2 linked regions of the Homo sapiens genome follow. The protein of the gene in region 2 purifies or fractionates together with the protein of the main gene of each other region. This does not show direct contact. Each region holds a gene or a part of one and is shown on either strand. Other genes may lie near its edges.

Region 1 (3,500 bases), 5.2 Mb from region 2:
GGTCTGTTCTTGTTTGGCTTATGGGGAGAATGAAGTTCAGAGAAGGAACCAGACATGGTCAGTGAGTGACAAAGTAGTCTCTGAAAAAAAAAAAAACAACATTTCTCCAAACATTCTGACTCAAATTTACAGTTTGTGTTACCACTAGAACTTTTAAAATAGGAAAAAAGAATAGACATAAAATTCAACTGTTCATTGTAGAGTGCTTCCATAAACGGACTCCAAAGCCACACGCTGTCAACGCAAGGACCCTTCCTTTCAGTGGATGACGTGAACTTAATGTCTGAAGACCGCTAGGGTACGGTGCTGCTCACACAGCTAGTTTTTTCTGAGTTTGGTGACTGGCAAAACTGTTGTGGCAGGCGTCGAGAGGAAGCAAGTACAAACTGTGTGTGCTTTATGACCACCAGCAGAGGGCTGGTGATCCGGGGGCCTGCTCACACCACACCATAACCACCGGCTGTTTATTATACATCATCTTTGGTCTTGACATCTGTTTAAAGGTGTATTGTTTCTAAGAATAAAAATACAGTTAAAATCCCTTTATGGTAGTTTGAAAGACATCAAAATTGCTTTTACGGTCAGCCCAATTTGAAACAGAACCCTCTTTCTGCAATGCTCAAAGGAGGTTACCATTTTTAGCACACTCTATGTGCAAGCCTGTATGGCCCTGAGCGGAACTGGGTGAGAAGGGGCCATTTATCCCGTTTGCTGTCACACGATTTGAATTCATTACAAGGTGTCCATAATAAAATTCTGCTTGGATATCTGAAATTCTTAATAACATATTCAGGAAACCTGGTATTTTTGAGTGACATACAAAGATAATCGTTCAATTTGGGAGGAGTCGGGTATTAAACCAAGACCAAGAGAAATTTGGTATTAAACCAAAACCAAGACATCAAGCCCAGAAAGGGGCATTCTCTCCAATGCTCCTTGGAGCCTCTGAGGATCGCCTGATAAGATGCTGCTGGTCCTTTGTTGAACGTCCTTGAGAGACTTACTCTCCTGCACTCCTTCTCTTTCAGAGGTGCCCAGATGAAAACTGGCTACATCTTACCTTCCCAGAACCAACTTCCCTCATATTGTAAGACTCTAAATCTGTACAACAGGCTTCATTAATGAAGGGCTAAAACATGGTTTTGAAATCCAGTGATTACACTTTGGAAACCTGTTTTAGCTGTTTCAGGGGTCTTAAAACTTGACACAGATACACAGGTTTTGATCAGTCAGAGCCCCAAATTCTATAGCCCCTTATCTGTTATTTAATGAAAAGTACAGTCATGCACACATCAGGATGTTTTGGTCAATGACGGTCTACATATTGATGGTAGTCCCATAAGATTATAAAATTGTATTTTTACCATACCTTTTCTATGTTTAGCTATGTTTAGATACACAAATACTTACCATTGTGTTCAGTACAGTAACATGCTGTACAGGTTTGTAGCCTAAGAGGAATAGGCCATGCCACACAGCCCAGGTGTGTAGTAGGCTATACCATGTAGGTTGTGTAAGTACAATCTAGGATGTTGGCACAGCAACAAAACAGCCTAATGACACATTTCTCAGAATGCATCCCCATCATTAAGCGATGCATGACTGTCTTCGCTGATCTAATAAAAACAGGTTAATAGTGAAAATCTCTTAGCTAAGCCTGCTTTTCTTCTGAGTTTCACTCAGGTACCAGAAAACAGAACAGCCCTTGCCACTGTTTTCTTTACCATTATTTGGAAAGTGGGGGAAATGTTTACATCAGGAGTACATCTTAAGCGAGATGATCCCCTCTTAGCCCAAAGAGCATAAGACAATTTTAATAGCCACTCGACAGAGTAACAGCACAATAAAATCAGAAATGAGAAGCAACTCTCTCCTTTCCCTTGGGGTCTCAAAGCTCTTTTACATTTCTTGATTCATTACAGAGAGGCTGAACTGAACTCAATTTCATTTCCAGGCTCTGAACACAGGGAATGTGACTGGTAGGGATGTATGTATAACAATTTCGTGGTGCTGGGAATTATTAAATAACTTCTGCTTACAGAAGATTTCTCATTCAGACATAATTTGTGAACAAATCAACAGCAAAGTGGAAGAAAGGATCAGTTAGGACCTCTTGAAAGCCGCATTCTACAGGATCGGCCTTAGCGATCGGTGCTGAACTGGGACATGACCAGGAGTTGTGTGTGCCCAATTAAGAAACAGCAAATACAATGAAGAATGTAGATCTAAACTTTGATCTGTATTTTGGATAATCAAATAAATATAAAGCTTTTTGCCCCACTTTGGGAGGGATTTTTTTTTTCTAGAACAAAATGAAACCTTCAACATATTCTTCCACTGAAAAAGCCAAAGTTCCATTTCAGACATGAAGGTGAAGGGCCCTTGGAGCTGTAGCACCAGAAGAAGGAGGAAGAATGCGGGTGATGGCTTTGTTTGGAGTCATCAGGCTCTACAACCTATCATTTGGTTTCTCACTAGTAGCTTTTTAAAATTCCCAAACAGTCTTAGTATTCTTGTTGTTAATGTTACTATTAAAATAAGTTCCTATGGAGTAAAAGAGAAAAATTAAGCTGTTAATAAAATGTCTTCAAACCTCTTCTCAGAAAACAAAGCAGCAGGTTCATCGTACACGTACCAGTCTCAATCCCACAGAAACGCTTGGTTCCTTTCATCCCTATGCTGTCTATACAGTTTAATCTCTACCTTTAAAAAAGAGACGAATGCAGTCATTTTGTTAGCTTAGGTTTGTGTTTTGTTTTTGTGAAGTGCTGCTGGCTTTTGGCCAAAATACATATATTTCAACTGAACCCAAGTGTTCAGACAATTGCCAGCCCAGTGAAAGGCTCATGAGCTGTCACACGACGTATGGCATCTTCTAAATTGCAACTTGCTCCCTCCCTTGGGCAGGCTGCCCGAGAGTTGCTCCTTCCTCTTCCAAACACCCACTCAGTTGATTTCCTTTTGGTCTTGCTTCCACAGGAAGCGGATACTTGGCAAATCTGCGAGGCGAGGCCGATCAGCTGTGGAAGTTCTGCACGGTGCTCTGTTTCTGGGAGAGCCGGAGGAGCTCCTCGCGGATTGCTTTGATGAGAGAGGCCGAGGAGTGGCCAGGCTGGAGGTCTTCCGTGGAGCTGGTGGGGTAACCCAGCCCAGGGCCCTGCAGTCCCCGGTGGGGGAGGTTCCCGGAAGGAGCTGAGGGCTCCCTGCCTGAAGTCCTTGGCACCTGAAATAGCGGTGAAGAAGAATACTCTTGATGTCCGAGCATGTGTGTCTGAAAAACATGGCAAACGTCACTGTACTTCCTACGAAGAATAAGCCGAAACATCAAATGCAAACTGGCTTTAGGAAGGTTCCCAGGACTGCCCACGTCCATCCACCAACTCAGCCCTCTAACAGGGCCCTGCTGCCTATGCTGCAGGTGAGGCGTGAAGACACCAGGGGGCTGGGGAGAACAGAAGGGAGGGAGGCTGGAGTGCCCCATGATGTGAAAGGTCGGGTGA
Region 2 (2,987 bases):
ATCATCACTTTATGAAAGCATATGACTATATGCTTTCAGAAAAAGCCAGGTTGCATCTTGAATGCTTTGCTGCTTAGAAATTTCTTCTGCCAGGTACCAGAAAATTATCTCTCCCAAGTTTAAAGTTCCACAGGTCTCTAGAGCAGGGGCAAAATGCTGCCAATCTCTTTGCTAAAGCATAGGAAGAGTGACCTTTGCTCTAGTTCCCAAGAAATTCCTTATCTCCACCTGAGACCACCTCAGCCTGGACTTCATTGTCTGTATCACTATCAGCATTTTGGTCAAAACCATTCAACAAGTCTCTAGAAAGTTCCAAACTTTTCCACATCTTCCTGTGTTTTTCTGAGCCCTCCAAGCTGTTCCAACCTCTGCCCATTACCCAGTTCCAAAGTTGCTTCCACATTTTTAGGTATCTTTATAGCAGTGCCCCACTCCTGGTATGAATTTTCTGTATTAGTTCATTTTCACACAACTATAAAGAACTACCCAAGACTGGGTAATTTACTTTAAAAACGTTTAATTGACTTACAGTTCCACATGGTTGGGGAGGCCTCAGGAAACTTACAATCATGGCAGGAGGCGAAGGGGAAGGAAGGCACATCTAACATGGCGGCAAGAGAGAGAGAGAGAAAGTGGGAGGGGAACTGCCAAACACTTTTAAAACCATCGGATCTTGTGAGAACTCACTCACTATCATGAGAACAGCATGGGGGAACCACCCCCATGATGCAATCACTTCCCACCAGGTTCCCCTTTTGATATGTGGGGATTACAATCAAGATGAGATTTGGGTAGGGAAACAGAGCCAGACCATATCACCTGCTTACCCTTTTCTCACTGCTCTGGCTGCTCAGTCTCTTCAATGTCCCTCAAACATACTACACAAGACTCCATATCTTCCCTTGCTGTTTCTCTACCTGGAATGTTCTTTGCCAAAGTAGCCATATATCTTACTCTCACAGCTTCTCCAGGTTTTTGCTCAAACATTTCTTCCTCACTTGGTGATTCTGTGACCATCTTATTTAAAATTTCTCATCTCCAGCAGCACTTCCTATTATACTTTCATGCTTTCTTCCTCCCCATCCATAGCACTTATTGCCACCCAAATTGGGATGTGTATTTATTTCCCAGGGTTTTTATAACAAATTACCACAAACTTGGTAGCTTAAAACAACAGAAATATATTGTCTTATAGTTCTGGAGGCCAGGAGTCCAAAATCAAGCTGTCATCAGGGCTCTCTTCCTTTGACAGCTCTAGGGGGGGAGAATCATTACTTATATCTTCCAGCTTCTGGTGGCCCAAGGTATTTCTTGGCTTGTGGATGCAGAACTCCAATCTCTATCTCTACCTTCACATCACCTTCTCTGTTTTCTCTTCTCTCTCATATAAGGAACTTGTCATTGGACATTGAGTCCACTCGGATAATCCAGAATGGTCTCAGTTTGAGGTCCTTAACTTTATTATATTTCAAAGACTCTTTTTTTTTCAAATAAGTTCCCAATCACAAGTTCCAGGTTGAAAGTGTGAAAATATATTTTTGGGAGCCACCATTCAACCCATTACAATATGTATGTATGTTAGATATATATATGTATACACACACACACACACACACACAAAGGTATTATCTGCTATCTGTTTCTGCTCACAAAGGTAACAAGTTTTAATATTTTGCTATTGTATCCCTACACGTACATAATAGATCTTTAATATATATTAGTTAAATGAATGAATAAATATAGTGATTTAAAATATATACTGCATGTGTAATTAATATATATTTATATTTTATTTTGTGGGGTTCCTTATGAGTTTGGATGGTGATAATCAAATCTTCAGGGCATGTTCTCTGGATAAACTACTGAAACTGACTACCAGCCTTTTATGATGGTTACCCCAACAAGATCACCAAATGCCCTGAAACTTCCGGCTTGCTTTGTGTGTCACCTTAGAAATAGCTTGTTTCTATGTGAATTTAACCAGTAATCCACTATACATTATTTTCTCTGTTGAGGCAGATTTCTACATTGGTCTGTGTCCTTACTTTGCTGAGCCTGTGCACTTAGGTATTCCTTCCACAAAGGGGAAGGAGCTCAATGTTCCATCTGTTATTTGAAAAAAAAATTTAATAGAATTCCCCAAGAAACCCTACTTCTACATTCTCCCTTTCCAAGATATTCATGAGAAATAATAAAGAAATAAACTGCCTCTGATAGTTGTAGCCTCCCAGGTTAACTATAACTATAGTATGTGGAGTCAACTAGGTGTGGAATTGTTTTAGACAGGTCCAGAGAGCATAGCCTTCCCAAACAGTTTTCCCATGCAAACCCTAATCTAGTGGCAGCTTGCTTAGATCATGCACTGCCCAAGATATTTAACAATCAATGTCTTTTCCATCATGGTAGTTGATCCTCATAACCATTGCGTAAGAAACACCAAGCAACTATTATTACTCCTGTTTTACACATAAAGACTCAGTGTTTCCAAAAGTATAGATGGTTTGGCCAAGGTCACATGGTGAATATATATCCAGGGCTAAAATTCAAGTTATTGCCAGAGTTTTTTTATCTTTCATTTCCTAATCCCTACTGAACATGTCTTTTCCTTTCTTAATGCACACATTTAATATCCCTATATGACTATGCAATTATATTTTGATTCATTTGAAGTTTTCAGAAAATAATCTCTTTTTTGTGTGTCTAGATTTTAAATAGAAATATATTCATCACAACTTACTTGTTGCATCAAGGGACCAAACTACATTCCAGAAGCAAACATTAAATCCTTTCCATTTTAAGCATTGTTCTCTTTTGCACATTTATTCCCTAAAGCAAGTTGTGCTTGCATTTTATTTTTGTTTCTTTTTTCCTCTGGGACCTATAATTCACATGTTTTCATTTTTATTTTATTACTGTTCTGCAGGTATAGTAATTCATAATTCCAACTATATTCCTTTACAACTAGCTTTCATACTTGGCTTCTAAAG

The links.
Region 1: the proteins of OR6B1 (region 2) and KIAA1549 purify together in Homo sapiens (affinity purification with mass spectrometry; one large-scale study listed by BioGRID and IntAct). This does not show direct contact.

The regions. Positions count from the first base shown.
Region 1 is NC_000007.14:138,834,890-138,838,389, forward strand, and holds part of KIAA1549 (UPF0606 protein KIAA1549), read right to left. Parts: intron 3,272-3,500; coding exon 3,017-3,271; 3' UTR 1-3,016. UniProt on the Homo sapiens protein: May play a role in photoreceptor function.
Region 2 is NC_000007.14:144,006,307-144,009,293, reverse strand, and holds the end of OR6B1 (olfactory receptor 6B1), read right to left. Parts: 3' UTR 501-2,987; downstream 1-500. UniProt on the Homo sapiens protein: Odorant receptor.